Homo sapiens: one gene and its partner. The protein of the gene in region 1 interacts with the protein of each later gene in a biochemical or structural test. Each region holds a gene or a part of one and is shown in the gene's direction. Other genes may lie near its edges.

What was found. The genes of interacting proteins can lie anywhere in the genome.
Region 2: the proteins of GNAZ (region 1) and RGS20 form a complex in vitro, tested with the Homo sapiens proteins (2 studies listed by BioGRID, with this or other methods).

What each region holds. Positions count from the first base shown.
Region 1 is NC_000022.11:23,068,440-23,072,039, forward strand, and holds the start of GNAZ (guanine nucleotide-binding protein G(z) subunit alpha), read left to right. Parts: upstream 1-2,079; 5' UTR 2,080-2,131; intron 2,132-3,600. UniProt on the Homo sapiens protein: Guanine nucleotide-binding proteins (G proteins) are involved as modulators or transducers in various transmembrane signaling systems.
Region 2 is NC_000008.11:53,878,671-53,882,485, forward strand, and holds the start of RGS20 (regulator of G-protein signaling 20), read left to right. Parts: upstream 1-2,201; 5' UTR 2,202-2,345; coding exon 2,346-2,414; intron 2,415-3,815. UniProt on the Homo sapiens protein: Inhibits signal transduction by increasing the GTPase activity of G protein alpha subunits thereby driving them into their inactive GDP-bound form.

The sequences.
Region 1 (3,600 bases):
CTGTGCCTACAACTATACCCTGGTGGAGGAGGCTATCTGTAAGTGACTGCTGCATGAATACAATATTGGTTTGATGCCAGGTGAGATGTCCCTCTCTTACTTTGAGGTCAAGTCAGGGAGGTGTCAGCCAGCCCCAGTGGACCCCTCCGCAGGCTAGCCTCTGCTCTGGACCACTGGAAAGGGCCATCTCACTGTTGCATGTGGGCTTACCTCTGCAAACAATTCAACTCTGACCCCCAGACTCTGCAGTGGAAACAGCCTCTGGCTATCCCAAGACATGCTAATATGCATTTCCTATAAACATTAACCCTCAGAGCCACCCTCTGACCACAGTCTGTTACATTCCCTTTTGACAGAAGAGGAAACAGAGGCTCAGCCAGGTAGCACAGCTGCCGGTCTCTGTGTGGTCCTCCTGGCAAGAGGTCCAGCCTGACACAGCCTGGTGGTGTGGAAGGCAAGCACAAAGGGTAGCTAGCCCCTCAGCCATTGGCTGAATTCCCTTGGTCCTCACTGGACACCTCCAGTGAGCACTAAGTTCGCCTCCATGATGCCCATAACAAATATACGTCCTGTTCCTGACAGTTGAGGCAGCACCCTCACAGGTGGCCCATGACCCTGCAGGTACGTAACGCAATGGTCTCCATCTCACAGAAGAGGAAACATTCCTAGGGAGGTTATGGGATGATGCTGAGATGCCACAGTGTCCAGCTGGCAAAGCCAGGCACATGCCCCTGCCCCTCCACCACAGAGCTATGATGGAGAGACCGCTCCATGGACCTCTGCCATGGTCAGGTCCAGGGCTGCTGCTCAAAGAATGGCATGATCCACACCTTACAAAGGTGTGAGGTGATAAGGAACGCGTTAGCTGGGAAGGCATTTGCACTTTGTCAGGGATGCTCTAGGATACACAAAGCTTCAGATTTACAAAGATGGAGAAGAGAGACAGGAGCATTCATGTCTTGGCCCTCTGGCTTGAGAGTCTTTTAAGCATGGAACTGAGGGACTCCTGGCCCTGAGGTCCACAGATAGGCTTTGAAATTGAAAACAGAATTTTGCAGCCTGGGTTCAGCTGCGTTTTGCTGAGGGTCTGATGCTTTCCACCAGCTTCCCAAAAGCGCCAATCAGTGGCCTTAACTGAACTGGCTCTCTCACGCTTGTCTGGGCTGGGGGCCAGCTCCTCGGTCCTTCTCCCTTCCTTCCCTCCCAAGGCCACCCTTCCGTGTGCCAGGATTGCCAGGGACGCCAAAGAGCCCCTAGACACTGGGCGGTGGCGGCGGGGGGCGGCGGCAGAGATGACTAATGCTCCCTCCCATCGCTGCACAAACCTCACCGGTGTAAATCGTTAGGGTTTGCATAGGCCTTTCACACGTTCTGAAGGATTGGTGAGACAATCCAGGAAAGCAGGTGCCACTAGCCCCACTTTGCAAACAGAAAGGCTGAGAGAGGTCAGTCGGTTGCCCAAGGACGTAGAGCTCACAAGAGGCCGAACTGGGTTTGAACCCGAGTGGAGAGAAGGCGAGCCGGGACTGGCTGCAGTAAAGAGGGCCAGGACCATGGCTGGGCTCAGGCTTGGTTTCCCGGGCTGCCAGAGGTGGCCCCTGGGGCTCGGCTACCAGGCCTCAGCGCAGCGGAGTCGGTGGAACGCCGGCGCGGGGAGCTCTTGCGGGACTGCGGCGCGCGCGGAGCTGCGACCCCGCCCCTGTCCGTCCCCATTGGGCTACTGGCCCGTCCGTCAGCTGCCTGTGCCCAATGGACAGAGGGCCGGCGCTCGTGGCGGGGCGGAGGTGCCCGGCGCGTGGTGCCCGGCGGGCGCGCGGCACCCCCCCGCCCGCGGTTGGCCTGGCAACGGGCTGCGCTCGCGGCTCCGCCCCCTGCCGGCGGCGGCGCGGCGCGGGGCGGGCGGACCCGCGGACTGGCGGCGGGCGGCGGGCGGCGGGCGGCGCGGGAGGGCGGGCGGAGGGAACCAGGCCGGCCGGAGCGTGTGCGCCGCCCGCGGTCCGGTCACGTCCCCGCGTGGGCGCCGCTGCCCGCGTCGTACGGAACGAGGGCGCCGCGGCCCCGTGCTCGCCGCCCCGCCCCGCCCCGCCCTGCCCGGAGCAGCTCGGCAGATGCTCTGTGCTGCGGCCCGGAGGTGAGTGAGCCGACCCGCGGCCGGCCGCGCGCCGCTGAGCCTCAGGGGTCGGGGGCACGGCCGGGGCATCCACCTTGCCCCCACTTGGGACTCTTCCCAGGCCTTTGTGCCCCGGATCCGCCAGGACGCAGCGTCAGGGATGCCCCTCAGGGGTGGGGGACACCAAGGGCGGGGACGCCTGCGAGGTGGGCAGGGGGCGGCCTCTGGTCGGGCAGGTGCTGGGGGAGGGATGCGCCGCCAAGCCGATGACCCCGCGGGAGGGGGCGGTTGAGGACCCGGGAGGGTGGACAGAGGGCGCCGGGGATGCCGCGCGGGGCCGCCGGGCGCCCCCAAGCAGCGGCTGATGCGGAGCCCGGGCGGGCCAGGCGAGCTGCGGGAGCGGCGCTGAGGCGGGTCTCCCTAGGGGGAGGATCAGGGAGGGGCGGCCGGAGCCGATGCAGGGCCTTGCCTGAAACCGAGGAGAGGGCCCCAGAGGCCTGGGCCCGAGGACCTGGGCCCGCAGACGGACAGCTAGCAGTTCTCGGTCACTGCTCTTGCAGCGAGCAGGTTCCTCACAGGCATTTAGAGGAAGAGATGAGTATCGACCTGCTGCGATTGTAATACGTTCCCGGCTCAATATTTTTTCCCTTAAAAGGCGGTGGGGGTGTTTGGGGGAGGGGAGTGAGGGCCTCAGGGCTGGCGCTCCGTATCCTGCGGGCGATCCGAGGGGGCTCTGCCTTTAGGGCGGTGCTGAGCCTTCCTGGGTGATGATGGCAGGATTCGGCCTAGGCCGAGAATGGGGGCTCCTGTTAACTGAGACAAGAGGATGATGCCAAGCGAGACCAGCGTTCCGCGTAGTCCGTGTTGGGGTGGAGGGACCCGCCTGGTAGAGAGGTCTGTCTTGCTTGGGGAGACAGCTGAGCCCCTGACCGGCTCCTTTCTGCCCAAGTGATTTCCCTGCCCTGGGGATTGAGCTCTCTGGAGAAGGCTCCTTGGCCAAATTCAATTAAGCAAATATTTATTGAGTGGTCACTCCCCCAGAGCTTGACGCTGGGGTGCACCGGGTGGGAGTGGACTGGGCCTGCCCTCCCAGGACTGATTGACCACCGCATAGGGGAAAACGTCTCTACTCGACCAACCCCGCTTGAGTGCAGGTGCAGGGGCCTCGGGAGGGACCTCAGAGTGGTGTCCTGGGCTGGGGGGTCAGGTGAGCTCGTGGGCAACATGACATTTGAACTGGAGCTTGAAGGACATGGGCACAGCTAAGCTGGGCATTGTGGGCAGAGAGGAGAGAATAGACCGAGGCACTTGGGCAGTTAGGTCTGATGGGAGCACTTAGCATGCCTGGGGAGTAGGAGGAGGTATGGCGGGAAAGGCCGGTGGGGGCTGCACGGGGCTGAGGGAGCTGGGAAGTGGAATGACCCCACTGCTGGTTAACTGTGGCTATGGTGGAGACCACGGCTTCCTCATCTGTAAAAGCGAAGCAGTTC
Region 2 (3,815 bases), on another chromosome or scaffold:
GCCCTTCAGCCACCTTCAGCCACTATCTGGACCTTCCATAGACAACAATCCCAATAGAATCTAGTAGCCAAGGCCAACTCTGTGCCTCTGGCAGGCAGAGCCCTGGGCACTTAGGGAGATGGGAAAGGGCAGGGGGAACAAGGGAAGACCAGAGAAGGGAGGGGAAGAGCAACAGTTACAAAAGTGAACTAAGATTTTCATCCAAATTCTGAAGAACCAGGCGATGTGAACACAGACCCTTCTGCATACCGCATGTCACATTCAGCGCGCATGGTAGTCCCCTGGGAATGTTACCATGCAGATTCCGATGCATTGGCTGGGTGGGGCTCAAGAGTCTTTATTTCTAACAAGCTCCTAGGTGTTGGCGAAGCTGCTGGCCTACGGACCACACTTCAAGTAGCACGGAGTTAGGAAATACAGGAGTGGGAGGGGAAAGAATCTAACTATAGGCCTTTCCTTCTGCTTTCACCGACCTTCTCTTGCACCCCCAAAGTAACGCTTCAAAATTCTGTAGTAAAGAGCCCCATCTAAGCGGCCGGACACCACAGTAACCGTATGCTGGTTTTGTTTCTCTCTCCCCACCCCAGTCCTTCCCGCCTGCACAGCTCCCAGACTCGCCCGCCGCCCCGAAGCTGTTCGGCCTCCTTTCTAGCCCGCTTTCCAGCCTCGCAAGGTTCTTCTCTCACCTTCTCCGGCGACCCCCTCCCGAGGCTCCCCGGAGGCGCCTGGACTTCTCCCCCCTGCTTCCCGCCCTGCCGGCCGCCCGGCTCTCGAGGGGGCACGAGGAGCTGCCGGGCCGCCTCTCGCTCCTGCTCGGGGCGGCGCTGGCACTGCCCGGCCGACCCTCGGGGGGTCGTCCGCTGAGGCCCCCCCATCCGGTAGCCAAGCCCAGGGAAGAAGACGCCACCGCTGGGCAGAGCTCGCCTATGCCGGTGAGTACCGTGGTCTCCACTACGCCCCACACCCAGCCTCCCCAGGACACCAGCCTCTCCCGATTCTTCCTAACCCCAACTGACCCGCTCCGCTGGGGCTAGCAGTAGGGAGGGTGGCAAGGTCGGGAAGGCCGGGACGTGGCTGGGCAAGTCCTAGGACGGGACATTGGCGGCTCCCGGGACACCGCCCCTCCCCGCGGGAAGACACTCCAAGCTACTTTTTCCTGGGCCATTTCCTTTCCATGGTCCAAGAAAACGGGAGGGAGCCCTCGCTCTTCCCCGAGGCTGCCTTTCAAACTCTCAGCGTGTCGCTCTCCTCCGCCTACTCCGAGCCTCCCCCAAACGCGCCTCCGCCTGCTCCCAGCGCTCGCTCTCCCACTCCCCTGCCCTCTCGGCAGGCAAGGGAGGAAATGACGTGATGTTATTTTTGTGTCAGGTCAGTTTCCAGCTTCAGCTTAGCCCTCCGGGCTCCAGGGAACTAACCCCGCGGCCCCACCGGGTCCCACTCCCGAAGGGACGCTGCGGGCTACGGGGACACGCGGTGCTGCGAGTCCGGAGAGCTGGGCGGCTGGGTTCCCCCTCCCGCTGCCCCCTGGTCTACTCCTTTCCCCGGACTCCGGAGTCCCTGGAGAAGGGGACGCGGAGGGCGACTGCCGAGGGTCTCAGCGGGATCTGGAGTCAGGGGTTAGTTCCCCCCCTTATCCCCCGCTCGGTTGCTGGGTGGGGCCTCCGCGCTCTGGCTAGCTGGGAGGGGGCGAGGGCCGCTTTCCAGGGCGGGAAGACCGGAGGCCTAGGCTGCGCCGGGGTGGGGCGGGGACAGAGCTCAGAGAGGCGCCCCGGGCCGGGGAGAAGGTAGGGGGCTGCCCTCCAGAGACGCGCAGTCCACAGACGCGAAGCTCTGGGGACCAAGCGCCCCCTCCATGCCTGCCGCCCACCCCCGCTCCTTCCTCCCGCTCCCTTCATTCACGAGGTCCGAGCACGCAGTCCAGCACACTCTAGTCTCGCTCGGCCCCGCGCGCCGAGGGGAGGCGATGACACAGAGGGCTTCGCGGACGCCCTCTACGCGCGCCTGGCTTCGCATCCACACTCTTGGGACTTGCTAATGCGGGGCTGGAGCAGTGGGGCTGCGGCCGGGGTGGAGGTCGCGCCCCGCGTGGGGCCTCGGGGGTACCCCTAGCACCCGCGGCGGTGGAGTGCGCCGCCGCTGGAGGGAGGCGAGACGTGGGATTGCCCGGCCGGGTAAAAGGAGTGAGGGGGCGGGGAGGAGGCAGAGCAAGGGGAGGAAGAGGCCGGGAGAAGAGGGCTAGAGCAAAGACCGAGAGCCGGAGAAAGGCGAAAGGCGCGGTGAGCAATCGCCGACGTAGAGAGGGCAGCCCTCCGCGCTGCAATATTGAGAAGGCACCCGCGGGACGCATGCGCACGGCGGACGGAGGCGAGCCGGCCGGGGCTTCCTCCCCGGCCGGCAGGGTGGACGGTGGGCTCGTGAGTATCCCAGTTCCTCGAACTCTCTTTCTTCGTCTCGGGCTCGCCCTGAGGCTTCGTGCTGGAAAGTGGCCGAGGCTGGGAGGGGCGCGCCGCTCGTCCGGACCTCAGGGTGTCGCCGTTGCTGCGGGGCGGGAGCCGGTGCGAGTCGGGGGTTCCTTCCCGCAGTGCGAGTTTGGGGGAGTGGGGCTGCGAGTGCGTCCGCGTGCGAAGAGGGGCATCGCGCCACCAGGATCAATATGTCCCGGGCCTGCCAGGGCGTCCGCGATTCCACCTCTGCGGCTTCGCGTCGGTGTCTTGGTGGGGAACGCGGGAGTCTAGTCTTTAGACCCTAGAAATCGCATTGACCACCCGAAGCGTATTTCGGAAAGACCAGGCGGGTGGAAGCGTCGGCTTTCTCACGGGATAGGGAGAGGACAAGGAAGGGGTTGGGCGCCCGGGGCTGGTGGTTTGAGCGCCGCTGGGAAGGGTAAGGAGACAGAGCCTCCTGGAATCGTAGCGCCTCCTTTTAGGAGAAGTGCAACCAGGGCAGGGGCACCGAGGGGCAGGGTGAGGAAGTGGACGCCCCACGCGTGGACCCTAGAAGACCGACTAGGTATGGGCGTTCACTCGGAGCCTCTGTTCACGCTCTTGAAAACCGAATGAACAGAGAAGTGCCCTCCACCCTTCGCCTGCGCCAGGGCAGTTAACGTGCAGGCGCCGCCGGGATTTTCCTGGAACAAACCCGGGCACTTGATCTTCCGCACCCTCGGAGCTGCCCTGGGAAGTCGAAACAAGTCTGGGCGCCCGGACTGCGGAGACTGGAAAGCAGGGGGCGGAGGGCGGGAGACTGGGGGCGGGAAGTGGAGGTGCAGGCTGCAGCTGGGGACCGCGGTGGGCGTTGGAGGGGAGGGTCTGTGTGCGCGGCTGTCCTCCAGCGCTGGGGGAGCGGACGGGCCAGGGGCCTCTAGGGAAGCGGCGCTCCGGGACCGGGGTGGCTTTCCCGTCTCTGTGTGCGCGGCGATCCCCACACCCAGCTCGGGCGGAGGAGCCCTGAGAGAAGCGGCTAGCTGAGAGTGGGGTGGGCGTTTTGGGGAAAGGTTTGCGTGCGCTGCGGCCCTACCGCTGCTAGAGAAGTGGAAGAGAGAGAGTGGGCGCCGGGAGGGGGTCTATAGGCGCCGCGACCTACCCCATCTCCCTCCACGCTTGTGGGGGAGTGAGTGGGGAAGGGGCTTTGGGAGAGGCGGCGCGCGGGCACTGAGGTGCATCGTGAGCTTCCCGGACTTGACAGCATCAAAGGAAAATCCTGGCGAGCAGCCAGGGCCAGCGAGCGACCCCAGCAGCAGGGACGCGGCCGTGCGAGAGCTCGCGGACAGGCGAGGGGGATCCCAGGGGAGCAGCTGCTGCCCACGGGCCACGGGC